Homo sapiens: one gene and its partners. The protein of the gene in region 2 purifies or fractionates together with the protein of the main gene of each other region. This does not show direct contact. Each region holds a gene or a part of one and is shown on either strand. Other genes may lie near its edges.

Evidence for each region.
Region 1: the proteins of SLC2A10 (region 2) and OMA1 purify together in Homo sapiens (affinity purification with mass spectrometry; one large-scale study listed by BioGRID and IntAct). This does not show direct contact.
Region 3: the proteins of SLC2A10 (region 2) and CTSB purify together in Homo sapiens (affinity purification with mass spectrometry; one large-scale study listed by BioGRID and IntAct). This does not show direct contact.
Region 4: the proteins of SLC2A10 (region 2) and TM9SF4 purify together in Homo sapiens (affinity purification with mass spectrometry; one large-scale study listed by BioGRID and IntAct). This does not show direct contact.
Region 5: the proteins of SLC2A10 (region 2) and LMAN2 purify together in Homo sapiens (affinity purification with mass spectrometry; one large-scale study listed by BioGRID and IntAct). This does not show direct contact.
Region 6: the proteins of SLC2A10 (region 2) and SPCS2 purify together in Homo sapiens (affinity purification with mass spectrometry; one large-scale study listed by BioGRID and IntAct). This does not show direct contact.
Region 7: the proteins of SLC2A10 (region 2) and SPTLC1 purify together in Homo sapiens (affinity purification with mass spectrometry; one large-scale study listed by BioGRID and IntAct). This does not show direct contact.

What each region holds. Positions count from the first base shown.
Region 1 is NC_000001.11:58,532,725-58,536,947, reverse strand, and holds part of OMA1 (metalloendopeptidase OMA1, mitochondrial precursor), read left to right. Parts: intron 1-206; coding exon 207-435; intron 436-2,616; coding exon 2,617-2,790; intron 2,791-2,887; coding exon 2,888-2,995; intron 2,996-4,223. UniProt on the Homo sapiens protein: Metalloprotease that is part of the quality control system in the inner membrane of mitochondria. Activated in response to various mitochondrial stress, leading to the proteolytic cleavage of target proteins, such as OPA1, UQCC3 and DELE1.
Region 2 is NC_000020.11:46,726,448-46,730,670, forward strand, and holds part of SLC2A10 (solute carrier family 2, facilitated glucose transporter member 10), read left to right. Parts: intron 1-367; coding exon of another isoform or gene 368-416; coding exon 417-539; intron 540-1,721; coding exon of another isoform or gene 1,722-1,846; exon of another isoform or gene 1,847-2,180; intron 2,181-2,905; coding exon 2,906-3,041; intron 3,042-4,223. UniProt on the Homo sapiens protein: Facilitative glucose transporter required for the development of the cardiovascular system.
Region 3 is NC_000008.11:11,854,376-11,858,598, reverse strand, and holds part of CTSB (cathepsin B isoform 1 preproprotein), read left to right. Parts: intron 1-658; exon of another isoform or gene 659-741; intron 742-4,223. UniProt on the Homo sapiens protein: Thiol protease which is believed to participate in intracellular degradation and turnover of proteins. Cleaves matrix extracellular phosphoglycoprotein MEPE. Involved in the solubilization of cross-linked TG/thyroglobulin in the thyroid follicle lumen.
Region 4 is NC_000020.11:32,161,319-32,165,062, forward strand, and holds part of TM9SF4 (transmembrane 9 superfamily member 4 isoform 1 precursor), read left to right. Parts: coding exon 1-47; intron 48-3,744. UniProt on the Homo sapiens protein: Associates with proteins harboring glycine-rich transmembrane domains and ensures their efficient localization to the cell surface.
Region 5 is NC_000005.10:177,338,169-177,342,391, reverse strand, and holds part of LMAN2 (vesicular integral-membrane protein VIP36 precursor), read left to right. Parts: intron 1-3,786; coding exon 3,787-3,904; intron 3,905-4,223. UniProt on the Homo sapiens protein: Plays a role as an intracellular lectin in the early secretory pathway. Interacts with N-acetyl-D-galactosamine and high-mannose type glycans and may also bind to O-linked glycans.
Region 6 is NC_000011.10:74,965,787-74,970,009, forward strand, and holds part of SPCS2 (signal peptidase complex subunit 2), read left to right. Parts: coding exon 1-137; intron 138-3,778; coding exon 3,779-3,913; intron 3,914-4,223. UniProt on the Homo sapiens protein: Component of the signal peptidase complex (SPC) which catalyzes the cleavage of N-terminal signal sequences from nascent proteins as they are translocated into the lumen of the endoplasmic reticulum.
Region 7 is NC_000009.12:92,045,213-92,049,435, forward strand, and holds part of SPTLC1 (serine palmitoyltransferase 1), read right to left. Parts: intron 2,497-4,223; coding exon 2,401-2,496; intron 2,057-2,400; coding exon 1,960-2,056; intron 842-1,959; coding exon 787-841; intron 1-786. UniProt on the Homo sapiens protein: Component of the serine palmitoyltransferase multisubunit enzyme (SPT) that catalyzes the initial and rate-limiting step in sphingolipid biosynthesis by condensing L-serine and activated acyl-CoA (most commonly palmitoyl-CoA) to form long-chain bases.

The DNA of each region.
Region 1 (4,223 bases), on a different chromosome or scaffold from region 2:
GAATTTTTTAACTGTAACTTTACATCATTGATTATTTTTTCATCATTTAGCTAAGAATTTTATTAATTGGAAAAGCGATGTATTCAGCGAAATACATCATACAAATTCAGGTATTTGAGGACGTAAAATTCTAGTGTATGCATTTGAGCTTTAGTGATATGTGCTGGAATGATTTTCAGAACTTTGAATTTTTCTTTTTGCTTTAGGGGCATAAGGAAATGGTGGCAGGCACTTCCTCCTAACAAGAAGGAAGTAGTTAAAGAAAATATAAGGAAGAATAAATGGAAGCTATTCCTTGGTTTGAGTAGTTTTGGATTGCTCTTTGTGGTGTTTTATTTTACTCACCTGGAAGTAAGTCCAATCACAGGAAGGAGCAAGCTACTATTATTGGGGAAAGAACAGTTCAGACTTTTATCGGAACTGGAATATGAAGCAGTAAGTAGTAAGAGTTGTTTTTAATTAGACTGCTTAATATAACACTCAAAGTAGGAAAGTATCTTAAATGTGAAAGATATGTTGTTTTTTAATTTTAGTCTTTGATATGAAATTAGCATTTTTTTTTCCCGAAGGCCTCAGACCTTTCACACTTAGTATTCCTACTGCCTACATTGCTTTTCCTAGCATTCACCCAGCTAACTCCTGCTCAGCACATTTCACCTTAAATGTCACTTTTCTCAGGAAAACCTTCCTTGATTATCCAGACTGGGTTAGGCAGGGTGACTGGATCAGGCCCTAGGAGGTATCCTTCATACCGACTGAATTATGAACCAGCTCATTTGTAGTTGCGCCCATTGCTTGGCTTTACTGGGGTTAGGTCTCCTAGGCTTTTTTTCTCTGCATACTGTACTTTTCCTTCAAAGCACTCATGAGAGTAACATAATTATTTGCATAATTATTTTTTTGATTGTCTTTCTTGTTAGACTAAGCTTCATGGGGGCAGGGATCTTACCTGTTTTGTTTATGGTTTTAAATACTAACACAGTATGTAAGAGTAGAGCTTAGTATATATTTATTGAATAAATAGATTTATAGTCAGAATTCTTATACCTTGAAAATCAAGTAATATAAGATTTTTTTCCCAAACATCAGTTTTAGCAATTTATTATATTTTTTGAATCCAAATTTAAGTTATAATTTAGAAGTCTTACCTCTTTGGAAAGTATAGTAACTCAGGTAGTTAAACATTTTGTACCCTAGTGAGTTTCTTAGGGACAGAGGTCATTTTCTCTCCAGTTCATAGCACATACACATGTTATGTGCCCTGTGGCTCAATTAATATTTTTCGAATTCATGTCCAGTAGCCTCACTTGACAGCTTTGGCATGGCTGAATCTTTTTTTTTTTTTTTTTTTTGAGACAGAGACTTGCTCTGTCACCCAGGCTGTACTGCAGTGGTGCCATCTTGGCTCACTGCAACCTCCACCTTACAGGTTCAAATTATTCTCCTGCCTCAGCCTCCCGAGTAGCTGGGACTACAGGCGTGCGCCACCACGCCTGGCCAATTTTTGTATTTTTAGTAGAGATGGGGTTTCATCCGTGTTGGCCAGGATGGTCTTGATCTCCTGACCTCGTGATCTGCCCACCTCCTAAAGTGCTGGGATTACAGGCATGAGCCACCATGCCCAGCCGCTTGTTGATTCTTAAGTGAAAAAAAGCATACACTTTATGAAAGTTAAAGTAATATTTCAGAACATTTTTAATTTTCTCAGTACACTTGAAAGAGCTCTCATGAATATAACTTCAGAAAAAGTATCTTCTGTGGTGGCTAGTCTTAATCAGCATCTTTTAGAGACAGTGATAATGCTCATTAGTTCTGAGAATTCAGTAATTTCCTTTCAATCTGTGAGTAAAACACCTTAAAATTAATGAAATGTCTATTTTGGTAGTTTAACTTTCTTATTAGGTATAGGGTGTTTTTCTGTTCAATGCATTGTGAATTTAATTTTCTTTTGTATTTTACTTAGATGAAATCTTAAGTTCTCCAGGCTCTCCTTTTCTTTTCTTTTTGAGATGGGATCTCCCTCTGTCACCCAGGTTGGTGTTGGAGTGCAGTGGCGAGATCTCAGCTCACTGCAACCTCCACCTCCTAGACTCAAGCGATCCTCCCACTTCAGCCTCCCATGTAGCTGGGAACACAGGTGCATGCCACCACGCCTGGCTAATTTTTTGTGTTTTCGGTAGAGACGGGGTTTCACCATGTTGCCCAGGCTGGTCTTGAACTTCTGAGCTGAGGTGATCCTCCTGCCTTGGCCTCCCCTAGTTCTGGGATTACAGGCGTGAGCCATCTTGCCCTGGCCTAGGCAGTGTTTTCTAAAATGTTTAGGAAAGTAGAAATAATACTTAAGTATTCGTTTGTAGTTTAATCGAAAAGAATGAAATTTTGATGTCAATCTATTCATAAAAAAACTTAGTATTAGAATTTATTCCTTTGTAAGAAACCACATTGTCTTTGCATGAATAATTCAGATTTGAGAAATTTCAGTGCTTAATATATGCAGATTTTTATATAATTAAAACTTAAAATGTTCAATAATAAGTAGCCATATAACTTTCCATGAAGCAGAGTAAGCATTTTGTAGTGCTCTTTTAAAATAAGAAGTAATTTTTAATCTTTCAGTGGATGGAAGAATTTAAAAATGATATGCTAACTGAGAAAGATGCCCGATACCTGGCTGTTAAAGAAGTGCTTTGTCATCTAATTGAATGCAATAAAGATGTTCCAGGGATCTCTCAGATCAATTGGGTTATTCATGTGGTTGATTCCCCAATTATTAATGCCTTCGTGCTTCCAGTAAGTAAATGTTCTCAAACGCATTGTAATTGTTAAATTTATTGTCCTTATTTTTTATGATGTTCTAATTGCTTACATTATTTTCTTTGTGGTGCAGAATGGACAAATGTTTGTTTTCACTGGATTTTTAAATAGTGTAACCGATATTCATCAACTTTCTTTCCTTCTGGGCCATGAAATAGCACATGCAGTACTTGGGCATGCTGTAAGTACCTAAAATGAATGTTCAGGTTTGGAAAAACTGCTTTGAAGTTAACAAGTTAAATCTTTTAAAGAACTGATTTTTTTCAGGTTTTTTAAAAATGATAGACTTTTAGTTTTGGGTAATTGCCTTAATCTGCTACCTGAAAAAAACGTGATTGGCTAATTTTGAGAATTTTTATGGTCTTTAGTATTTGATACTGAATAATATTTTTCTTAAATACTATTTTTATCACCTGTCTCTTTTGCTAAAACGTAATTATTCTCAACCCCTAATTATTTCAAATTAAATTTTAAACTTTCTATAATTATTAATATACTTGTAATCTAGTCAGAAAATTAATTGTAGGGAAGTGATATTACTATTTAAGTGGGTAAATCATCTTTCTTTTTTATTCATTCTCAGAGGATAGCTTGGAGCATCTTTGAAAATGTCTAGAATGATGTGTCATGTGTAATTAATACAGAGTAATAACAATACCTTGCCATTTTACAGTTTACTGAGCTTTTTAGTATATGTGGCTTCCCATTCATAATTTTAATACCCAATGAGGTATGTATTTATTATTACTATTTTATATAAGAGAAAACTAATGTTTAGAAAAACAGTAACATGACTAACCTGACAAAGTAACCGAACTGGGACTTTAACGTGGGTCTTCTGTATGTTAGTCCAGTGTTTCTTCCTTTCACTACAGTTACCTGGTTTTTAGCAGCGCTTTTCTTATAGATCATAGAATTCAAGTTGATGTATGCTCCTGTGAATACATGTCTGTTCATCTTGATATAAGTCCAGGAAAAATAACACATCTGTTTCACACATTTTTTAAATTGTTATTCATTTAAAAATATAAATGGCTCTTTTGTCTACATTAGAGAAAGTATTTTTTAAATTGTAAACGCAAAGGTACATAGTGAAGTGACTGAAATGCTAAATCAGAAATACAAGTAACATTAACTTCAAATGGAAATGATAATGATTCTAATCCTTCTAAGAGTAATCTCAAATTCTACCTGTTCCTTAGACTATTAATAAGATGAGATGGGCTAAATTGTTTTTCTGAAACACTGAAAGTAATTATCTCCTTGATTTCTTTTGAGTTACAGGAAGATTTTAAAAACATTTTTCTTGACTGGGTGCAGTGGCTTATACCTGTAATCCCAGCACTTTGAGAGGCTGAGGCAGGAGTATTGCTTGAGCCCAGGAGTTTGAGACTGGCCTCGGCAACATA
Region 2 (4,223 bases):
GAAGCCTCAGGGCCCCTCACTTACCTGCAGTTGCTCCTCCCAGGGCCAGTGCCTAATTTTATGTTTGTAATTTGTATTCCTTAAAAGCCTCCCCAAGTCATTTGAGCTTCAGGTCCCTTAAAGCCCGGATAGCTCACAACTGGAAGGAATTTAATGAATAGCGTGAAAACCAATCATCCCAGTTCGTCCAAGACTGTTCCCATCTCGGCATTGAAAGTCTCATGTCTCAGAAAACCTCTCAGTCTTCAGCAAACTGAGACTCTACTGTAATTCTTATAGCAGAATGGGAGTGGGAGTTTAGTATCAGGAGCCTGACACTAGAAAATCCCATTGTTGAGAGGCTGCATGTTTGACCTGATGGTGCCAGGCCCCAGGTCCCACCACAGCCCAGGAGCCCTCCTGCTCTCCCACCCTAGTGACCTGGCTTGTCCTCAGCGAGATCTACCCTGTGGAGATACGAGGAAGAGCCTTCGCCTTCTGCAACAGCTTCAACTGGGCGGCCAACCTCTTCATCAGCCTCTCCTTCCTCGATCTCATTGGTGAGTCCTTCCCAGACAAGTCCGTTTTTTTTCTGTGGCCCAAGCTCCCTACTCTAAAGCAGAAATTTTTGGATTTTCCTATGTATTAGCTGCAGAACTATTATTCTGTGCAGAAACATCATCAAATGTCCAAGACGACATCCAGGACCCTCATATGCACTGTAAAACTCCCCAGGCCAGCTAATGGGTGATGGTCTACACCCAGTACTGGTGAGAGGTCATCTGAGGTCAACCGGCAGGAGTAAGAGTAGCAATGTTTATTTGCTCCAAACTGGCTTAAACTGGTTCATGACACCTGCCAGGTGGAAGTTTTTCTTGGCTTTTCTTTTCTTTTTAATTTTTAATTTTTTTTGAGATGGAATCTTGCTCTGTCACCCAGGCTGGAGTGCAGTGGCACAATCTCAGCTCACTGCAACCTCCACCTCCCGGGTTCAAACTATTCTCCTGCCTCAGTCTCCCGAGTAGCTGGGACTACAGGCACCCGCCACCACGCCCGGCTAATTTTTGTATTTTTTGTAAAGACAGGGTTTCACCAGGTTGGCCAGGCTGGTCTTGAACTCCTGACCTCAAGTGATCCACCTGTAATCCCAAAGTGCTGGGATTACGGGCATGAGCCACCGTGTCTGGCCTGGAAGTTTTTCTCAAATCAAGTTTGGGTGACATCATCTCTTCCTCCCTAGCATTGAAACCCATTCTGAGGTGTGGTGGGATGGGGTGGAAATGATGTGGGCCCAGAACACCAGGGAATGACTCTGAGATGCTGAGATGCTCATGGCTCCAGGCCCTGGTCTTCAGTGGGTATTGCTCATCTGGGCCAGAGTACACAGGCTCCTTCACTGTGGTCCCCAAGGCACAGTTCTTAGGGTTCAGTTATTTTCCTATTCCCTATGGCCAAGAGTTTCCTTCCCAAAGGTGCAGCCAACTTGGGAGGCTGGGGGGCAGTGCTGTGGGAAACCCCAGTGGAAGAACCCCCCCTATCATGGCTGTCTTCCAACCCCAGTCTTAGGGAATCCAAGCTTCTCCCTGCAGCCTCAGTCTTCAAGCATTTCCCTTTGTGTGGAGTAAATGAGTGAGAGAGGAGAAAGAAGGAGAGAAACAAGGAAGGGAGGAAGGAAGGGAGGGAGGGAGGAAGGAAGGAAGGAATTTATTAGAATTGTGTCATATATCATCCCCATTTCACAGATGGGAAAATACATCCTTACCCCGTCCAGCCAGGGAGTCAAAAGACTAGAACCAGCCCCACTGCCTTCCAGCCCATTGCTCTCCCTGCTGGCGATAGGTCCAGCTGGTCATGGGAGGCTGCCTAAAGGAGGTATGGACGTGGCTGTCAGAGGTGAGAATGGCTTCCAAAACATAATTTGTCTTCCACCTTGACAAAGATCCTTCCTCCACAGCCTCTTCTCTGTCTTGGGATGAATGACATCAAATGACTCAGGGTCATTCCCATCTTGGCTGCTGGTTCTGAGACCCACCGGAGGCTCTAGGAGGAGGCTGACTCTGGGACTGAACTGTGGCTTTTGTCCTCTCTCCCAAACCAGTCACAGGTCAAACTGGCTGAAACTCAATTCTCTGAATGATCAATTCACTGAATGACCGATTCATGGAATTTCTGGGTGTGTTTTTTTTTTTTTTTTTTTTTTTTGAAACAGGGTCTCACTCTGTCGCCCTGAGTGCAGGGTGGAGTGCAGTGGCATGATCTCGGCTCACTGCAGCCTTGACCTCCGGGGCTCAAACAATCCTCCAGCCTCAGCCTCCCGAGTAGCTGGGGCTACAGGTGTGTGCCACCATGCCCAGCTAATTTTTTTATTTTTTATTTTTAGTAGAGACAGGGTTTCACCATGTTGCCCAGGCTGGTCTTGAACTCCTGAGCTCAAGTGATCCTCCCACTTTGGCCTCCCAAAGTGCTGAGATTACAGGCATGAACCACTGCACCAAGCCCAATTCATGAAATTTCTAAGGATTTTTTTTTTTTCAAACTGAGATTTGCCAAGGCCGTGTCCATGCAGCTGTTTGGCCACTCAGCTGGATCCACGATCCCTCAGGCCAGGCTTTCGGAGCCCAAGCGTGCTCCACGGGATAGTGCTCTAGATGTGGGTGAGGGGCCTTTCCCATAAACACAAGTTGCCTTTGTCTCTGTGCTTGTGGACTTGCGTCCTGGCTCATCCCCGCCTTTGAGACAATCAGCGAGATTTCCGCTTTAAGGTACTTCACTGACAGCTTATTGGTCACTCTGCAAATTGACCAACGGGAACATTTGCTTTGAGTGAACTGACTTTCCATGCCTGACCTAGAACCTACCAGTTGGCCCAGGCTGCGGGGCCAGAGTGCTTGGTCCTGGGCCTACACTCCCGCCCTCCTGTTTCCAGGCACCATCGGCTTGTCCTGGACCTTCCTGCTCTACGGACTGACCGCTGTCCTCGGCCTGGGCTTCATCTATTTATTTGTTCCTGAAACAAAAGGCCAGTCGTTGGCAGAGATAGACCAGCAGTTCCAGAAGAGACGGTAGGAAGCTGACAGGGTGGGTCTGGGGGAAGAGCTGTAGCACACCCCAAGCACACAGCTTCAGGATTTTAGTCTTTGTGCTTTCCTTTTGCAAGCGGGCATTCCTCCTGTCTTCCTTATTGCCTGGGCACTATGAGTTTTTTTTTTTTTTTTTTTTTTTTTTTTTTTTTTGAGATGGAGTCTCGCTCTGTTGCCCAGGCTGGAGTGCAGTGGCGCCATCTCGGCTCACTGCAAGCTCCGCCTCCCGGGTTCACGCCATTCTCCTGCCTCAGCCTCTCCGAGTAGCTGGGACTACAGGCGCCCGCCACCACGCCCGGCTAATTTTTTGTATTTTTAGTAGAGACGGGGTTTCACCGTGGTCTCGATCTCCTGACCTCGTGATCCGCCCGCCTCGGCCTCCCAAAGTGCTGAGATTACAAGCGTGAGCCACCGCGCCCGGCCGGCACTATGAGTTTTGTCCGGTCACACACAAACTGTTTTCCTTGAGTTGTTTTGTGTCTCCCTACAGTGCCTTTTCATTTGACTTTAAGACCCAGCTCATGGGGATTTAAAAATCATTTGATTATGGAATCACAGGAGGCTAGAAGAGTAGAATCTTAAAACCATAAACTATCTTAGAGTCACAGGACCTTGGAGTAGCAAAATATCATAACTATGGCCTTTAAACATTGCACGCAAAACGCTTGTGGGCTTCATGCATTCATTCCGTGGCTATTTATTAAGTCCTTACTCTGTGCCAGACAGTGTTCAGAGCCTTAGGAAACATGCTGAGATTAAGGAAGACAAAGTGCCTGTCCTCAAGAGCTTCCATTTGATGGGGGAGGGAAGCCAACAAATGCATAAACAAGAGCGTTTTAGTTGGTGATGAGTAATTAGGAGAAAATGAAGCAGAGCAAAATATGTTGAGAGGGCCAGGTTGACACAGGAGGAACAAAGAAGAAAGGGGTTGTGGCTGAAGTAGAGTGGGTGGTGAGGGAGGGAAGTCGTCTCAGAGGAGGTGGAATTTAAGTTAGTGAGAAGGAGGCACCCACGTAATGATGAGGGGAGGAGCATTCTAAGCAGAAGGAACAGCAAGTGCAAAGGCCCTGAGGTGGGCATGTATCTGGCATGTGCAAGGAACAACAAGGAAGCCAGTGTGCCTGGAACAGAGGGAGGAAGGGAAGAGCGTGGAGGGTCAGACAG
Region 3 (4,223 bases), on a different chromosome or scaffold from region 2:
AGCTTGTTTTACTGGGCATGGTGGCTCACACCTATAATCCCGACACTTTGGGAGGCCAAGGCGGGCAGATCACTTGAGTCCAGGAGTTTGAGACCAGCCTGGGCAACATAGCAAAACCCCATCTCTACAAAAAATACAAAGCTGGGCGTAGTGGTGTATGCCTGTAGTCCCAGCTCCTTAGGAGGCTGAGGGGAGCAGATCTCTTGAGCCCAGGAGGCAGAGTTTGCAGTGAGCCATGATCGTGCCACTGCACTCCAGCCTGGGCAACAGAGTGAGATCCTGTCTTAAAACAAACAAAAAAAACAAACTTGTTTTCATTTAGACTCTTCCTGGCGTTGGGGACCTATTGGAATAGGTTTAGTGTGAACTGAGAGCTAGAAGTGTTAGAGGAGAGAGGGAGGGAACAGAGCCCGCTGGAGCGAGTGCCCTTCCTACCTTATCACTGCATGCCAGGCATGTGCCGGCGCTTTGGTCCTCCTCATTTCATTCTTGACTGCCACCTGAGACACGATGGTTACTAGCTCCATTTTATAGGTGGTGAAACTGAGGCTTGGGGAAGGTCAGACCCCAAGGGTGCCATTTAGTCAGTGGCAGAGCCAGATCCAAATGCAGGTCTCCTGACTCCAAGTGCAGGGCTCATTTTATCGTCCGGTTGCAGCACGCTGGCGGCCCCTTGAGCCCCAACCTGGATACCATAGGGGAGGAGCAGAGAAGCCAGGAACACCACAGCCCTGGGCCAAGGTGCGGGGCTGAAAGAACTTCCCAGCGCTCAGCCTGGGACTAGTGGAATGGGCTGGGCCCTGGGGCTGGCAGCGGTGGCCCCGGGGAGCCTGGGAATGAGTAGGGAGCACAGGGAGGTGTGGGAGGGCCTGGGAACCATGAAAAGGAGGGCGGGTGCAGGGAAGTCGCCTGCTAGTGAAGTGGCGAGGGGGCCCTGTGGGACTCCAGGGAATGGCCACGGCAGGTTGTCCTCCAGGAGTTGAGAGCCACTGGACATGGCAGCTGCCTGTGTTCTCAGCCACCACAGTAACCAAAGAAATCTTGGTTTTAAAATTCAAGTTGCCATGGAAACGCTCCCATCCTCGACTTGGCTTATTATTTAAAATAACATCTCTACAGCACAAAGCCCCCGGGTACATCCAAGGACACTGCTGTCTGCCCACGAGACATGCTAACCTCACAGTGTGGAGGCTGTGTGGGTCACTGACATGCATGGCCACGTGAGACGCTGCCTACCCACGAGTCACGGAAAAGGGGAAGATTATTAAGAAAGTCACTAGGGGCCAGGTCCAGTGGCTCATGCCTGTAATCCTAGCACTTTGGGAAGCTGAGGCAGTTAGATCCCTTGAAGCCAGGAGTTCAAGACCAGCCTGGCCAACATAACGAAACACGGACTATACTACAAAAATTAGCCAAACGTGGTAGCACAGGCCTGTAATCCCAGCTACTCAGGAGGCTGAGGCACAAGAATCACTTGAACCTGGGAGGTAGAGGTTTCAGTGAGCCAAGATTGCGCCACTGTACTCCAGCATGTGCCACAGAGCGAGACTCCCATCTCAAAGTCACTAGGGAGGAAGCCTCATTGGTGGGAAGGAAGACCAAATTGGAAATGCTCTGAGGAATCATTAAAACAAATGTCCTTTTATCAGTTTGGTGGCTCAGGGCCTTTAGTAATACTGCCAACTATTTTTCCTAGAAGAAACAAAACTGAAATAATAGGAACATACTCACTTTTTTTTTTTTCTTAAAAGTAAGGGTATGTTGTGAAAAAAAGTCTCCCCACCGTAGTGACCGACTGCCGTGCATCTTCCTTGGCATTTTGCATGTAGTGGCAGGAGTGTTCCTACATGTGTAGATTGCTGAGAGGGTCAGATGCTTATGGTCCTCAGTCACCCACAGCTTGCTTTTTCCCCACTTAACATTGGGACTTGGGGCATTTTTACTCTGTTAATACAATAGAATTCACTTCAACTAGTTGGTTTTTTACTTTTATTTTATTATTATTATTTTTAGATGAAGTCTCAATCTGTCGTCCAGGCTGGAGTGCAGCCTCTGCCTCCTGGGTTCAAGTGATTCTACTGCCTCAGCCTCCCAAGTAGCTGGGATTACAGGCATGCGCCACCACGCCTGGCTAATTTTTTGTATTTAGTAGATACAGGGTTTCACCACCTTAGTCAGGCTGGTCTCTAACTCCTGACCTCAGGTGATCCAACCGCCTCGGCTACAGGCATGCGCCACCGTGCCCCACCAACTAATTGCTTTTTTAATGGTTGCTTCATATTCTATTTAACCACTTACCGTAATTTAACAGTTACTCTGTTATTGGATACTTGATTCATTTCCAGGACATGCAGATTTAGAAACTGGTGGGCGTTGCTGGTTGATGTCTCGGTGGTTGTGCCCACCCACCCCAGGCACTCATTATCATGCCTTCCGTTTCCCCACTTCCTAAGCCCTGCAAGAAGTGCCAAACTGTCCAGCCCTTGCCAATCTGATACATGCTGAATACCTCCTTGATTTTATCTGCACCTCCCTGAGGTTGAACTTATTTTACTTTATTTTATTTTATTTTTGAGGCAGAGTCTCACTGTCACCCAGGCAGGAATGCAGTGGTGAAATCTTGGCTCACTGCAATCTCCACCTCCTGGGTTCAAGTGAGTTGAAGCAATTCTCCTGTCTCAGCCTCCCAAGTAGCTGCGATTACAGGCACCTGCCACCACACCTGGGTAATTTTTGTATTTTTAGTGGAGACGGGGTTTCACCATGTTGGCCAGGCTGGTCTCAAACTCCTGACCTCAGGCGATCCACCTGCCTCAGCCTCCCAAAGTGCTGAGATTACAAGCTTGAGCCACCATGCCGGTTGAACTTATTTTTATCTGTGTTGGCCATTTGTAGTTTTTCTATTATGCTGGTTCCATTTTTCTGACTTTGAAGAGCCTTTTGTGGAAACGAAGCCTAAAGTATATGTGAGTACTGCTTTGTTTCGTCAGTTTTTGTTTTAAAGAGACTTTTCAGTGTAATGCAAGCATTTTCCCTTGAAGGCTGTGTTTCCTGTCAATCCTAAGCTTTCCTCCAGCATTACCTTTTTAAAAAACTTTATTTTCTATATTGATGGGGTCTCACAATGTTGTCCAGGCTGGTGTTGAACACCTGGCCTCAAGTGATCCACTTGCCTTGGCCTCCCAAAGTACTGGGATTATAGGCATCAGCCACCGCACCCAGCCTGTTTTTCAAAGGGCATTGATTTTTTTCATAAAACTTTTTAAATTAAGATCTGTGGGCCTGGTGCGGTGCCTCACGCCTGTCATCGCAGCACTTTGGGAGGCTGAGTCAGGTGGATCACGAGGTCAGGCGTTCGAGACCAGCCTGGCCAAAATGGTGAAACCCTGTCTTTACTAAAAATATGAAAATTAGCTGGGCATGATGGCACATGCCTGTAATCCCGCTGCTCGGGAAGCTGAGGTAGGAGAATAGCTTGAACCCAGGAGGCAGAGGTTGCAGTGAGCCGAGATCATGCCATTGCACTCCAGCCTGGGGGACAGAGTAAGACTCCGTCTCAAAAAAACAAAACAATTCTGTGTTGCATGTGGTACTTTTTGTGTGTGAGGAGTCCAGTGTGAAGATTCAGACTTCAGGCAGCCACTTGTACAAGCACTGTCCTGTTTCCTCTCTGGCCTCACCTAGGTAACGCTGATTCCTCCACGGAGGATGTGCTTCTGAGTGGTCCGTTGGGTGCTGTGCTGATGAGCATCACCCAGCATTTTACGACACATGTGCTGCCCCAGAGGGCTGGGCTCCCGTCAGAGCTCTTTTCCACTGGCTGGGTGCGGTGGCTCACACCTGTAATCCCAGCACTTTGGGAGGCTGAGGCCAGTGGATCACCTGAGGTCAGGAGTTCGAGACCAGCCTGGCTAACATGGTAAAACCCCATCTCTACTAAAAATACAGAAATTAGGTGCGTGTGGTGGCGCACACCTGTAATCCCAGCTACTTGGGAGGCTAAGAACCTGGGAGGTGGAGGCTGCAGTGAGCCAAGATTGTGCCACTGTACCCCAGACTGGGTGACATGGCCCACAGACCAAGACCCTGTCTCAAAAAAAAAAAAAAAGCTTTTTTCCAGAGCCATCTTGCTGTCCTCATATATTTATTCTCCTAGATGAATTGTTGCTTAAGCAACAATGAAGTTTAAATTGTTCTTCAGATAGAACCCCTAGGTGCCAGGC
Region 4 (3,744 bases), about 15 Mb from region 2:
CTGCATTCTACGTCCTGGTTTATGCCATCTTTTATTTCGTTAACAAGGTACTGCCCTCCTTGAGGAGGTCCTCTTAGTCCTCATAGGGTAGGAAGGTCAGGAGGAGGATGCTGGGAGAAAAACCCAAGTGCCTGAATCTTCCTTTTCCACCCAGAATGGGGAGGACCAAAGCCACCTAGAACTGTTCCTGCTCTAGAAGATGGATCTTTTTAGGAAAGAAAGAATCTGTATTCTGTATGTTTGGGAGACAAAGGCCATCAGGATACGTGACAATGTGAATAATGCTTGTAAAACTTACGAGGTATAGCCATAGCCAAAGCAGGACTTGAAAGCAATATGTCACCTGCAGTGCTCTTCACAGGAAATAAGAGGGACTAATAACACCTTGAGAAAAAGGAAAAGATAAGAGTAACATGAAAGAAGAAAAGTAGAAAGGAGTTAATAAAGATAAAAGCACAAAATGCTGAAATAGTCTAAATAGTAGAACCCAAATTTAGGGCTGCAGGTATCCTGTCTCTGCAGGTGTTCTCTTCTTCACGCAAGTACTGTTCAATCCTGCAGAGTAAGGAGAGGATGGGAAAGTTTTTCACAGGCACCTCGGAGCCCTCCTAACTCTGTGACCCCACATAGGTAAAGTGTGGCCCAATAATAAGAGGGAGCCAGGCTTACCTGACTAGGGCAACTCACAGAGCTCATTGTCCCGAGAGAGAGACGTGGGCAAGAATACAGATGTCCCCACGACAGTTTTACTAGATTCATTCATGATACACAAACCAGATGAGCCATTGAGAGGAATTTGGAGGAGCCCTGTTGGGCCCCTCACCTCCAAAACTAATACTCAAGACTTACTCTGACCTGCTGTACTTTGGGTCTCCAGAGCCCAGAAGCAAGCAGTCCTCTGTGGCAGTCAGGCGTATTTGCAAAATAGAGTTGTAGGTCAGTTGATCGAAGCTGGGAATGCCGTTTCCCAAAAACAGTCAAGTTGGAAAAGACTGGAAGGATCATTTAGTGTAGTGCTGTACCCCTACCTCCAGTCTGGTGACTGTGCCCCTCTTCTCTAACAGTCTCAACAGATGATTCTCTAGCTCAGGGGTCAGCAAACTGCAGCCCGCGTGGGCCAGCAGGCCTGTTTCTATAAATTTTTATTGGAACACAGCCATGGTCATTCATTAACATATCTGTCCATGGCTGCTTTCACACTACAATGGCAGAGTTGAGTAGTTGCGACAGGGACCATATGGCCTGCAGAAACTAAAATATTTACAATCTGGCCCTCTAAGTAAAAGATTGCAGACCCCTGCTCTACTACATCCAGCAACAGAGAAGACACTCCCTCCTAACATTCCCATTCTTTCTGGACAGCTCCTGTCATTATCAAGGTCTTGATTCACACTGCAGTCTCCCTTGCTGTGACTTCCATCTTTAGACCTTAGTCTTAATTCTGGGATCATCTAGAACAAATCTAATCTCCCTCCTCTATAGCCCATATTAATCATAACTCTCATAAGTGGCAAGTGACTAAAACTCTATCAAAGTAGCTTAAGCAAAAAAAAAGGGAAAAAAAGTAGCTTAAGCAAAAAGAATGTATTTGCTTATATAACTGGAAAGACTAAGAAATTGGAGTTCTAGCCTCAACCATGCTTAGATCCAGAGTCTCAAAAATATCAGGGCTCAATCCCAGCACTTCGGGAGGCCGAGGAGGGTGGATCACAGGGTCAAGAGATCGAGTCCATCCTGGCCAACATGGTGAAACCCTGTCTCTACTGAGATACAAAAAATTAGCCGGGCGTGGTGGTGCACGTCTGTAGTCCCAGCTACTCAGGAGGCTGAGGCAAGGGAATCGCTTGAACCCTGGAGGCAGAGGTTGCAGTGAGCCAAGATCGTGCCACTGCACTCTAGCCTGGGTGACAGAGCAAGACTCCATCTCAAAAAAAAAAAAAAAAAAAAAAAATATATATATATATATATATATATATATGTATGTATGTATGTATGTACACATACATACCAGGGCTCTGTGCCCACGCCTTAGCCCTGTGTATCTTTTTTTGGCCTCAGTCTGCAGGCAAGATCTTTTCACAAAGTAGAAAGATGGCCAGTGGCAGCCCTAGAGTCTACTCTTTCCAGCTTTGCAGCCCTAGAGCTAAAAGACTGTCTTTCGTCTACCATGATACGTCAGCCAGTGAAGACACGCTGCTCTGCTCGGGTGACATGCCCAGTGCTCACTGTTTTCCAGGTCCAATAGCATCACATATTCAGACAGACTGGCTTAGGTCTTGTGCTAGGAATTTTTTTTTTTTTTTTTTTTTTTGAGATGGAGACTCGCTCTGTTGCCCAGGCTGGAGTGCAGTGGTGCGATCTTGGCTCGCTGCAGCCTCTGCCTCCCGGGTTCCAGCGATTCTCCTGCCTCTGCCTCCTGAGTAGCTGGGGTTACAGGTGCACACCACCACGCCCGGCTAATTTTGTGTTTTTAGCAGAGACAGGGTTTCTCCATGTTGGCCAGGCTGGTCTTGAACTCCTGACCTCATGTGATCCGTCTGCCTCAGCCTCCCAAAGTGCTGGGATTACAGGCGTGAGCCACCGCACCTGGCCTATTTTGTGCTAGGATTGATGGCCCCAACAGGACCAGGTGTTTTGAGTGTTCCTCAAAACATCTGGAATATGGAAGACAAGGAACACGGTTAAACAAAACTAGAGATCACATCACAGCCTCTTGTCCTTCCTCCCTTCTGCTCCAGTCTTCTTGCTCTGCTCAAAAAATCTCTTCCTCCAGCCCCAATGCCTTATGTATAAAATGAGGAACTTTCTGGCTCTGCCTCTTTGCCTCGTCCCTTGCCTCCTTTTACCACGGTTCTGCTCCTTGTCCCTCCCCCACCCCTCCCCCGACCACCAGCCACAAGAATGCATATAACAAGAGATGGAGGCTGGGTGCATATGGTTCACACCTATAATCCTAGCGTTTTCAGAGGTGGGAGGATAACTTAAGTCCAAGTGTCTGAGACCAGCCTGGGCAATAGAGCAAGACACCATTGCTAGAAAAAATATTAGCTGGGTGTGGTGGCACACACCTATAGTCTGAGCTACTTGGGAGGCTGAGGCAGGAGGATCCCTTGAGCCCAGGAGGGTGAGGCTGTAGTGAGCTGTGATCATGCCACTGTGCTCTAGTCTGGGTAATAGAGGGAGACCCTGTCCCTTTAAAGAAAAGGGGTTAGGGGAGAGATGCGGGGCTGAGCCTGAAAACATGGCCTTCACCCCTTAGGCTTAGGAGAGGGCTTCAAATGGTGACCTATTTTGTTTTCTTTGTTTCTTTACTGTTTTCTTCTGGGCTACTGGCATTCTGTGACCATGTGTCTGCCTGTGAGTCCTGGGACAGGCCCTACTCAGGCCCTGGGCATATCTTGATACCAAGGTTCCACATTAGTTCCCTTTGTAAATAACACAGATCCCCAGCATCTCTGCCCAGCCTCTAAACTCTACCCCAGTTAAAAAGGAGTCCAAAATGCTCCAAGATCAAAATCTCTGTGAGATGCTAACAAAAGTGACAAGCATTCTGGGGAAGAGAGGAATGAATGGAGGCTGAGGCGGGCTGATGGGGCTCCTGGTCCTGAAGCTGGGCATCCTGGACACCCCTCCCCTCCCCCACCCACTCCGACTGCTTCTCCAGCCATGCGGGAGTGTTGCCATACTGATCTGGGGTCTGTGGGGGACCAGGAAGGGCACAGCTGTGGCCATTCCTTTTGTGGC
Region 5 (4,223 bases), on a different chromosome or scaffold from region 2:
TCTTAAGTTTAGATCTCTGATCTTTATATACTTATTATTATTTTTTTTTATAGAGATGGAGTCTTGCTGTGTTGCCCAGGCTGGTCTTGAACTCCTTGGCTCAAGCAAACCTCCCATGATGGCCTCCCAAGGTGCTGGGACTACAGGTATGAGCTACTGCACCTGGCCTCTTTACTTTTCAAATTAAACTTTTTATTTTGACATAATTATAAATTCACATGCCGTTGCAGGAAATAATACAGAGATCCTAGGTGCCCTTGGGTTTTGTTTTTTTATTTAGCATTTAGTCCATTTACATTTAATGAAATATGATACATTTGGGTTTAATCTGCTATCTTACTCTATATATTCAAATTGCCTATTCTCTGTTCATTTTTCTCTCTAGTCTTCTTTTAGGTTAATTTTTATTATCCTATTTTTCCTCTTCTATTAGCTTGAAAGTTATATGCTCTTTTCTCAGTTTTAAGTGGTCACCCTAGAATTTAAAGCAGGCATTCATGTTGTACCAAAGACTAATGATAATGTGTACTTTACCTTCTTCCTGGACAGTGCAAGGATCCTAACACACTTTAACTCCATTTATTGTTGTCATTTGTTTTAATTATTTCTGTTTTAAATCACACAACCCATTGTTTTGTGCAGTCAGATATTTAGATTTTCACCCTTATAGTCACTGTATTTGTTGTTCTTCGTTCCTTCTGGAATCTGACTTTACATCTGGATGGGGATCATTTTCTTTCTCCCTGAAGAATGAAAGTGTGAGTCTGCTAATGAATTCTTTTGGTTTTTGTTTGTTTGTCTCAAAATATCTTTATTTTACCTTCATTCTTGAAGGATACATTTGCTGAGTATAGAATCCCATGCTGGCTGTTACCTTCCTGTATCTCCAAACATATCAGTCATCTGCCTTCTTGCTCCCGCTGTTCCCGCCGTGAAGCCGGGTGTCAGGCTGATTATTGCTCCTGTGAGAGTCATTGCCTTTTTTCCCTCTGGTTCCTTTTTCTTTAAGATTATTATTTTTTTTATGGCCGGGCGCGGTGGCTCACGCCTGTAATCCCAGCACTTTGGGAGGCCGAGACGGGCGGATCACCTTAGGTCGGGAGTTCAAGACCAGCCTGACCAACATGGAGAAACCCCGTCTCTACTAAAAATACAAAATTAGCCAGGCGTAGTGGCGCATGCCTGTAATCCCAGCTCCTCAGGAGGCTGAGGCAGGAGAATCGCTTGAACCCAGGAGGCAGAGGTTGCAGTGAGCCAAGATCACGCCATTGCACTCCAGCCTGGGCAACAAGAGCGAAACTCTGTCTCACAAAAAAAAAAAAAAAAAGAAAAAAAAAGGCTGGGCGTGGTGGCTCACATCTGTAATCTCAGCACTTTGGGAGGCTGAGGTGGGCGGATCACAAGGTCAGGAGATCGTGACCATCCTGGCTAACACGGTGAAACCCTGTCTCTACTAAAAATACAAAAAAATTAGCCGGGTGTGGTGGCGGGCGCCTGTAGTCCCAACTACTGGGGAGGCTGAGGCAGGAGAATGGCGTGAACCCGGGAGGCAGAGCTCGCAGTGAGCAGAGATTGTGCCACTGCACTCCAGCCTGGGCGACAGAGTGAGTCTGATTTTTTTTGAGAAAGAGTCTCACTCTGTTGCCCAGGCTGGAATGCAGTGGCACAATCTCGGCTCACTGCAACCTCCACCTCCCAGATTCAAGCAGTTCTCCCGCCTCAGCCTCCCAAGTAGCTGGAATTACAGGCATGTACCACCACGCCTGGCTAATTTTTGTATTTTTAGTAGAGACGGGGTTTCACCATGTTGGCCAGGCTGGCCTCAACCTCAAGTGATCCACCTGCCTCAGCCTCCCAAAGTGCTGAGATTACAGGCGTGAGCCACTGCACCCGGCCAAGATTCTCTGTTTTTAAGGAGAACAATAGACACTCCAGACTAGATGGGGGAGGACGTGGGTTGAAAAACTACCTATTGGGTACTGTTCTCCCTGCCTGGGTGCAGTATACCCATGTAACCTGCACATGTAGCCCCTGTATCTAAAATAAAAGTTGAAATTGAAAAGAAAGAAAAAATGCTTTTGTGGCACACGTTCTCAGGATTGCCTGGGGCTGTACCACGGGGAAAAAAATTAGAAAAAAATAGTTTCATGTTAAAAAAAACTTTTTTGTTGTTGTTGCTGTTTCCTCTATCCCTCCCTTCTTTTTTTGTGCCTAAATATGGTTTTCTTTTTAGTCATCTCCTTTGGTTTGTAGGACTTTTCAAGTTTGTGGCGTGTCTTTGAATCAGTTTTAGTAAGTGCTTAGACGTCTTTAAATATTCCTTTGCCTTCATTTCTCACATCTTACTCGGGAATCCCAATTATATGAGTCTTAGCCTCTCTCACTGTTTCCTCTGTCTCTTACCCACAATTCTATATCTTCCATTCTTTTGTGCTCTCGGGGACTCGGCCTAGGTTTTGTTATCTGGGTTCCTGGTGCCCAGAGTGGGAGCAGTGAGTCTGTGGCATCAATGAATGCATGAAGCATATTGCTCAAATTGGGGTACAGTGTTTTTTATTTTTCTGTGATCACAGAAGTAATATGTTTATTATACATTATTCAAACATGGTAAACAGTCGCCATAATCCCCCTCCCAGAATTACCCATCATTAATACTGGTTCATGTTCCTTTACTCCTGTATTCATTTCTCTTCATGCTCATCTGCATTGGACGTTAATGGTCTTTTTCACAGTTGCCAGTCTGACAGGTCAACATCCTGTTTGGGTTTGCCTTTGTGATGGGTCTTTGTTTAATCACTTGCTTACATACCCATCTGCAGACTTCCTGAAAGTGGATTCTTGTCACCGTGTGTGTTGACACCTTAGTTTTCACAAGCGACTTCCTGATGCCTAAGGCAAGGCTTTCTCCCTTGGCGTAGGCGGTGCCCATCCCTGCCCCAGCTCACATGGTGGTGCCCTTGAGTCCCAGAGCACGACCCTGACCAGCTCTCATCCCCAGCGCTGGTACCACACTTAGGCTGGGCTGGGGAGGTGAACTGGTGAAGGGCTGGGTTTTGGAGTCAGCCAGACCTGGGCTTGAGGCCAGCAGCACTGACCCGGCCTGATTTTCCTCACTTGGGAAGGTTGGTTAGCAGGGTGGATGTGGCAGTGGATGTGGGTGACCAGAAAGGGGCTGGTGCAATTTATGTGAAAGGCCTGCAGGCCGCGGGAAGTACTGAAGGCAGAGCAGAGCTCTCGGAGTCAGAAAACCCTGCATGTGAATCCAGACAGTCCGCTGAGCAGAGCTCTCGGAGTCAGAAAGCCCTGCGCGTGAGTCCAGACAGTCCACTGAGCTGCTCTGGACAAGTTGTTACACCTCTGAATTTGTTTTCCTGTAAAATACTTTGCTCAAATAGGAGTTGTAACGTCTGCAGAAGGTTCCAGGGCAAGAGCAGTGGATGGAGAGGAAATGGCTGGTGGGTTTGGCTGGTAATGAGGGTGAACAGTGTGGCAGCCACCTAAACCTACTCAGGAGCAGCCTGAGGTCTGCTGGCGGGGTCTGGGCCTCAGGCAGCCTTGGAACACTGGCCTCCCCCACCTCACCTGGTGCCCAACAGTCTCTTCCCTTCACGGCCAGAACATTTAGGGGTCTGTGGTCAGTGGCACTTGTGGCCCTGTGCCAAGGAGTGCCCAGTCTTAGCTGGGGAGAGAAGAGAGGTCTGTGGGGCAGGGGCCGTGCTGGGGTTGCCTCCAGCTTGCTGGAAGGCCCTGGGGAGCTCTGAGCAGCCCATTCTGCTCTCCCTCCAGCCGTGCTTCCTCAAAGACTGGGAAATGCACGTCCACTTCAAAGTCCACGGCACAGGGAAGAAGAACCTCCATGGAGACGGCATCGCCTTGTGGTACACCCGGGACCGCCTCGTGCCAGGTGGGCTGGTGTTCGCTCAGCTGGGCCCTGTGGGGGTGGGCACGGGCATGGCTGCTGGCCCCCTAGGGAGGTGGGGTGGGGCTGCCTGTGGCTCGTGGGGACCAGCGTCTCCTCTCCTGTTAGGAAAGTGCTGCCTCCCGTGGATAAAGTCCTGCGCCTCCGGAAGGAGCCTGGCTCTGGAAGGAAGGTCACTGAGGGGAGAGGAGCAGCTGGGTCCTGCAGCTCAACCCTACACCCTCATTGGCCTGGTTTTACCATTTTAAACAGTTATTGTTGTAAAAAAGCCAAAACATGAAGACTGTGTGGCTGTGACTGCATG
Region 6 (4,223 bases), on a different chromosome or scaffold from region 2:
GTGGAGAATTTTGGTCTAATTGATGGTCGCCTCACCATCTGTACAATCTCCTGTTTCTTTGCCATAGTGGCTTTGATTTGGGATTATATGCACCCCTTTCCAGAGTCCAAACCCGTTTTGGCTTTGTGTGTCATATCATATCCTTTATTTATGCTCAGGTTGTTTTCTAGTGACTATTTTTTTAAATCTGCTGATATTTCTCCCTACAAAAAACAAAACGGACTTTCATATTAGGGCTTGCTAATGTTAGAATTCAACATTTTGAGCTGTGATGTTTATATAGTAAATATCTATCAGTTTATATAGTAACTGTCACTGATATTTTATGTTTTGTATGGTTATTTTATCGTAATTCATTTTTGTTATTAATGTAGAGGTTATTGTCCTAATATGAGCACTTAATAGCAAAACACATAGTAATAGTGAACCCAGCTCTTCTCATTTCTAGCCCAGAACTTTTCCCGTTAGACGTGGCTGCTTCAAGCCACTCATTCTAGGATATTAGGAAAGGATCTGATTTTGGAGACTCAGATCTGTATTAAGTTTACTTGAAGCTGAGGAGCTGAACTGGAAAGTACTGAGCATGAGATACAAGTGTGGCTTGTATTACAGTGGAATTAAGAACTTATTCTGGAGCTAGAGAATATGGGTTTGAAATCCAAGGTATCTGTGATCTTGTGCTAATGAAAATTTACTTATTTTTGAGATGATTTGAATACCACTCATTTATAAATATGGGTAGCATTCAGAATTATCATAAAGATTAAATGAGAGATTTTATATTGTATTTGATACATAATCATTTCCTTTCCCCTCTTTTTTATGATAAATGTAAGATCATGGTCGTTGCCTACCCAGCGTGATTTTTTTTCTCAAGAAGTTGAATATAAAGAACTTAATTATACTTCACTATTAAAATAGGTAATTTTGGTTGGTAGTTTACTTTTTTAAACAATGTTACCACTACCTAAATTTTGTTTTGTTTTCTTTTTTTTGAGACAGGGTCTTACCGTGTCACCCAGGCTGAAGTACAGTGGTGTGATCATGACTCACTGCAGCGTCAGCCTCCTGGCTCGAGCAATTCTCCCACCTCAACCTCCTGAGTAGACGGGCACATGCCACCATGTCTGCCTAATTTTTAAATTTTTTACAGAGACAAGGTCCTACTACGTTGCCTAGGCTGGTCTCAAAACTCCTGGGCCCAAGCAATCCTCCCAAAGTGCTGGGATTACAGGCATAAGCCACTGTGCCCAGCCAACCTGAAATATGTTTTAAAACTTCATGTTGGGGATTTATCTTCAGAGGCAGTTAGCAAACCTCTGATAAAGCAGATCCTAGTCAAAAATTGTATTATCCAGATTGCCCCACATTTCCCCCAGAAGTGGCACCAGGTGATCCTTGACTCCTTTCAGTAATCAGATTAATCATCCCAGTATGAATTTTTCACTATTAAGGCAGTTCAGAAGAATAATATTCCATAGGTTCTAGAGACAGTTCCCAGGGGAATTCCAAAGAGATTTGAAAATGATAGCAACATTATTACAAATATCTGGCCTCCCAAGAGAACTACCTTGATGGTAATTCATTTGTTTGGTTATATTTGTTTAATAAAACAAGGTCTTATTTTTGTCATGTCAGTTTTATTTATAATGTAGGGACTACCATTATAAATGTCTTCTGTTGCTGGGCATCGTGGCTCATGCCTGTAATCCCAACACTTTGAGAGGCCAAGGCGGGCGAATCACTTGAGCCCAAGAGTTCAAGGCCAGCCTGAGCAACTTGGAGAAATCTGTCACTACTAAAAATACAAAAATTAGCTGGGCATGGTGGCGCATGCCTGTAGTCCCAGATAGTTGGGAGGCTGAGGCACAAGAATCACTTGAATCCAGGGGGCGGAAGTCACAGTGAGCCGAGATCTGCTACTGCACTCCAGCCTGGGCGATAGAGCAAGACTCTGTCTCAAAATAAATAAATTAATTAGATAAAATAAAAAATAAATTAGCTGGGTGTAGTGGCACACACCTATAATCCCAGCTACTGAGGAAGCTGAGATGGGAGGATTGCTTGAGCCTGGGATGTTGAGGCTGCAGTGAGCTGAGATCATGCCACTGTACTCTAGCCTGGGTGACAGAGTGAGACCCTGTCTCAAAAAAAAAAGTCTTCTGTATCCTAGACTGCATATATCCTTCATCTCTAAATCTCATGATAATTCTAAAACATCAGTATTATCCCAATTTTAAAGGTAAGGATACTAAGACTTGGGGAAGGAAGTTATTTGTTACAATCATACTGATTAAAGGCCAAGATTTAAATCTAGGATTATCTCTACTCTAAAGTCCATATACTTTGTACTATATTTTCCTGCCTTTCCTGTTCATGAAATTTATCTATTTTTTAACTCTTCTTTAATGGAATGCTTCATGAATTTGCCTGTCATCCTTGTGCTAGGGCCATGCTAACCTCTGTATCGTTCTAATTTTAGTATATGTGCTGCCGAAGCGAGCACTGTTCATGAAATTTATTTTTATTTTATTTATTTTATTTTTATTTTTTGATACAGGGTCTCACTCTGTTGCCCAGGCTGGAGTGCAGTGGCACGATCTTGCCTCACTATAGCCTCTGCCTCCCAGGTTCAAGTGATTCTCCTGCCTCAGCCACACAAGTAGCTGGGATTACGGGCCTGCACCACTACATCCAGCTAATTTTTTTTTGGTTTTTGTGGGTTTTTTTTGTTTTTTTTTTTTTTTGAGACAGAGTCTTGCTGTGTCACACAGGCTGGAGCACAGTGGCACGATCTCGGCTCACTGCAACCCTGCAACCTCTGCTTCCTGGGTTCAAGCCATTCTCATGCCTCAGCCTCCTGAGTAGCAGGACTACAGGCATGTACCACCATGCCCAGCTAATTTTTGTATTTTTGGTAGAGACATGGGGTTTCACCATGTTGGCCAGGCTCATCTCGAACTCCTGACCTCAAGTGATCTGCCCACCTCAGCCTCCCAAAGTGCTGGGATTACAGGTGTGAGCCACCACGCCTAGCCTTAATTTTTGTATTTTTAGTAGAAATGGGGTCTCCCATTGTTCCTTGTTGGCCAGGCTGGTTTCAAACTCCAGGTCTCAAGCAATCCACCTGCCTCGGCCTCCCAGAGTGCTGGTATTAAAGGTGTGAGCCATCGTGCCCAGCCTTGTTTATGAAATTTAAATGGCACAGTATACACAAAGCTCTTATGCCAGTTTTTGGCAAACTATAAGTGCTTATTAACTATGGTACTTAATACTGTCAAAAACAATATAATAATAAGTCTATATGCATATAGGAAGTAATCGTAGTACTATTTGACATACTCTCTTATAGTAAACTATTTGGGTCACTTTTCTTCTCTTAATAACCCTTAAAATCAGTTGAACATGGTCAAGTCCACTGGGACTATTCGTTGTTTTTTATAAAGAAATAAGCACTATTATAACAAAGTCTTGACAAACTAGGTATCTTATTATACATGTTGTCTTTGAACATAAAGATGAGAGCTAGTTTATGCTCTGTATCTTTTTCTTTTCTTCCTTTCTGAGGTGTTTGCAGAATTAACCAGAGAGAGCCTTGCTTCTCTTGGTATATAAACATAAGGATGAAAATGAAATAGCTAAATTTTCAGTGTTTTGGCAGCAAGACAAAGCTGTCTTCTTTAGGACTATCATTATGAAAGTTTTTATATCTGTTGCTTGTCAATTTGTGTTACTTCTCTTTTATGTTTGGGTATTTTCCCCTTAACTTTATTTGAACCTATTTTGTGATGATGGGGATTCTGACCATTTATACCTCATATAAGGAGAAGAGCATCTTTCTCGTGGCCCACAGGAAAGATCCTACAGGAATGGATCCTGATGATATTTGGCAGCTGTCCTCCAGTCTTAAAAGGTATGACTATCCTCACAGATTTTTAAATCCTGGTGTTGGATTTGCCCTGGCATGTTGTCATTATCAACAGAAGACTTATTATGTGCCTACTCTATGTGGATCATAGGGCTAGTCATATAAAATGAAGAAAGGAGTATGGATGATCTAGAAGGTTTGTCCTAGCCCTATAGTTCTGAGATTGCGTTATCACAGAAATGCTCTGAGGATAAACTGTGGGAGAAGGTACTTTTTCCTGTGGCCAGTTAACAGAGACGATTAAGCATACAAAAGTATAAAGGCCAAAGATGTGAGATCAGTTATCTTTGAAGAA
Region 7 (4,223 bases), on a different chromosome or scaffold from region 2:
TCCGGAACACAGATAGGACTTTCATGACCAAGAAAGCATGTTTAACCTTAGGAAAGGCAAAAAGAAAGACCTCGGGCAATGTGAAATCACTTTATATAAGACCAGAAATGTGCCTGGAGATATCACCAACCTCCATTTTTTTTTTTTTTTAACTACAGAGGAATCTTAAAGAGTGACTCTTCTAGATGACAAGTTAGTGGGTGCAGCACACCAGCATGGCACATGTATACATATGTAACTAACCTCACAATGTGCATATGTACCCTAAAACTTAAAGTATAATAAAAAAAAAAAAAGTGACTCTTGTGTAGTAAAAAAAAAAAAAAAAAAAAAAAAAAAACACTGATAAAATTTCACTTGTTTCTTTTTCTTGTGTTAAAACTTAGTAATTTATTAAAAAGTAACACAGATGGTATGAACCCAGTCATCTAATTACATAATATATAATGGCATCCCTGTGTGTGCAGACATGGAGAGATGCTTCAGTGTTTACCCTGGTTATTTCTGGTGGTAAGATGTTGGGTTGTTATTTTCATCTTTCTATCTTCTGTACTGCTGTAATATTTTATTAATGAGTTTGTTTCATTTTCAGAAAAACAAAGTCACGATTCTTTAAAACAGATGATCTGGTTTTACACAAATAAACCAATGTGAGTGAACTAAGTTTTTGGTTTCTTAGCTGCAATCTGGTCAAACTGACCCAAGCCTAGAAATTTAAAACTTTCCATTAGTTGTTAAGTGTGGTGCAGATAAACTTTATGTTGGTTGAAAATATATAAAACTCACCCTTGTAAAGCTTTATGAATTTGTCCGCACTTTTCCTTCAACACTGCAAAAATACCTAGATGAAAAAAATACGTTTGAGAGTCTATTTGAAACTTATGATAGTACTAACCTAAAAATATTTTTGAAGACCCAGATCAAGTTCATCAATTTAAAATGCTACAAATCCTTCTACATACTAACAGAGCCAAGAACCCATACTCCCCTGAAGGCCCAAGCTTTGTCTCTGGTGCGTGCTAACTGGCCCCTTCTCACCTCAGTATCCCACTTTCAACAAACCTGGAATGATGCTTTCAAGAACAATCAATGCCTCTTGTTCTCATCAAGATCCTAATCTGGCTAAGAATCAAAGGGTACAAATTTATTGCTTATTTCTTTATCCTAAACAATTTGGTAAAAAATCAACTATAGTAAAGTAATTTTTACAATCTTTTCTTGATATTTTCCTTTTTTATTCAAGGAAAATCCCAAAACTAAAGTATCTGATCAGAAGGTAGGCGTGCCAGGCCATCTGAGAAGCAAGCATATGAATGAGCACAGAGACACACATTTTCTGGTTCTCTGAATTAGTATCAGTGATGAAGATTCAGAAATACTGTACCGGGTAGGGCCTGCTGCTCCCTTTCCGTTTTAAGCTTTGCAAAGGTGGCACTGTCATAGCCAAAGGCCACATTTTAAATTCTTAGTAGACTTTTTATTTTTCCCACTGAGTAAGTTCTTTGCTGGTAAACCCGGCTTGGCCTCAGTACCAACTGATGATTCAAAGGCTAAAGGTGAAAACTCACAATATTTATAAAATTGCACAGATAAAAAAGCAGCATGCTTCAGCTGATTTCTCAAAAAACTATTAACCAAATAAAGACTGGCTTATTTACACCAATGGAACGTTTAGGCCCAGAACTGGCTGAGAGCCCCTCGTCCTCCCAGCATCTCCACCCACTATCTGAGCTAGCCTTGCTTTGGCTCTGGCTCTGGCCCCAAGCACAGGAGAAAAGCTCTGACCCCAAGTCCTTGGGGCAGGAATAGCTTCTTCACTGCCATTCTTCCTATGAATGCCATATAATGTAACTGCAAACCAGTTTTGTCTGGCAAATAATTTCTCCAGTAAGTAAATCAGTAACACAACTAACGTAACCTGAAATCTCTTTGATTCCTTGGGTTTTTAAAGGGTTATACCTGGATTCTCTTCCATGATGTTGAGGGCCTCAATTGCTGCAGCAGCTAACAGGGGAGGTAACGAAGCTGAAAAGCAGTATCCCTGGCCGGAAAGTCGCTGAGAAGAAACAAATGAAGACATATACACATTCTCTGTCCTTTCTAGGTAAACATTTGAAAGGCACCAGTTCTCTAGAACAACTACTGAACAGTGTGTACATGTGGTGAGGGGGGTAAGATCCAGCCATAAATAAACATTATACGTGTAACAGCAACAAGACTTTTTGTTAAATGTGAGATCATTTCTAAATAGAAATATTTTGAGTGATTCTTTAAAAATTGACATTTAAATAAAAATTGTGTGATAAACTAAGTAAAATTTCGTATTTCAAAATTATATTTTGAGGTGACCAATGGAGAAATTAGTTTCAGTTTTAGCTCCTGTTTTTAAAAAGAACCCACCTGATGGTCAATTACAAAAGACCTGCCACAGCAGAAACCTCCAATAGAAGCAAGTGCATTCTCCATGTTGGCACTGATAAGATCAATATCATCAATCTGCCGGAAAAGGAGGAGTGACAGTTATTCCACAGTTTAAAGAAAAAAAAGGCCAACTTCAAGCCTAGAGACAAAATTTAACAGCATTAAACTGTCTGTTAATATCTGGATTCAAACTACCTATCTACATGAAAATAAAAAATAAACCATATAACATCTATCGCTGAATGAACTGTAGTCTCATGGCCCATCTGAAACTGTCTCATTTTATACATTTTTACCATTTCATTATACATGACAAATTAACTCACAGCAAAGACAAATAAATTATAAGAAAATAAAACCCAAAGCTGTTCGATATTAAAAGTAGTCACAGGTACAAAATAAGACTATTTCCTCGCTAAAACAGTGGTCTAGCTGGCCTTCCTCATGGGATGCACTGAGATAAATAAAAAGTCTATCGAAGTTTTGAGCACTTTATTCTTGTATTCAGTTTGCCTCTCAGCATTTCATAAGTCAATTTATCCAAACGTCATGGCGATGGAATCTTTGACCAACTGGACAGCAGAAGAACCTAATGTGCTCTAAAATGACCTAATGGGCTTTGAGTCCTACATCTTTCTGACCACTCAGAACTCCTTCGGTCCTCATCTTTGGGTCCAGCCCTCAGCACCAAGTTCCATTCTGGGCACACAGTAGGCATTCAATCATTACTTACTGATGGCCATGTTAATGGATTGTCAGAACACAGCTAGTGTTTTCCTTAGTGTTTCATAGATCCAGCAGAGTTTTGAGAAACTCTGCACTCCTGCCCTTTTTAAAAAGCATGTTTAAACCTTTCATTATGAAAAATTTCAAGCCTGAACAAAGTAGAACAGAACAAAGAATCCCCATCACCCAGATTCAAACATTATCAACTCAAGGACAACCTTGCTTCACCTATATCCCCTACCACCCTCATCATTTCTTTGTAGTGAGTCCCAGACTTCATGGGGTTTCATCTATAAACATTGCACTGTGTATTTCTAAAAGATAAAAACTCTCTCAAAACATAATCACAAAACTAGTATCATACTTAAGACATTAACAATTTTTAAATGTTAAGTTTAAATTTGATGTTAAATATATTCAAATATTCAGTGTTCAGATATCTCTGATTGTCTCACCAAATTTTCTTTTAACAGCATTTGTTTGAATCAGGATCCAAATAAAGCCCGTACATTCTGCTCTCTACTCTCAGGCGCTTGTGAGTATTTCCTCACAGTATTTCCCAAAGTGACAACTGCTGGAAGCATTCACAAAACTACAACAGTGAAGTTCAAGTTTTTTCCTCCATAAAAATTTTCATGCCTTAAAAAAGGCTGTAGTGTACTGCTAAATCTGCTTGAATTACACTTCCATTTATCTTTCCATTTATTCCATTTACCTCCTCGGTGCATGTAACTGCTGAATGTCAGTCTGCCTTGGAGGAGGTGCTTCCATCCAACCTCCCGGGATATTCACTCTGCTTTACATTTTTCTCTGGGACTATATGGTTAGCGGGATGTCGATAATGTAAGGCAATTTTACGTTTTATAGTTCAACTCTGTAACACAGGTTGCACAGCTCTTATGCGCATGTTTTGGAGAAAAAGCTTTCTGTAACTCTTCCCATGGTGGTTGGTAAGACAGCTGTTCAAGACTGGCTGACTTCCTCTGCCCTGAGGCTCCAGGAGCAAAACCCACTAGGCACTGCGGGCAGTCTGGGTCCATTTCCCTCAGAAAAGGAAACATGACACCTCATTCTGT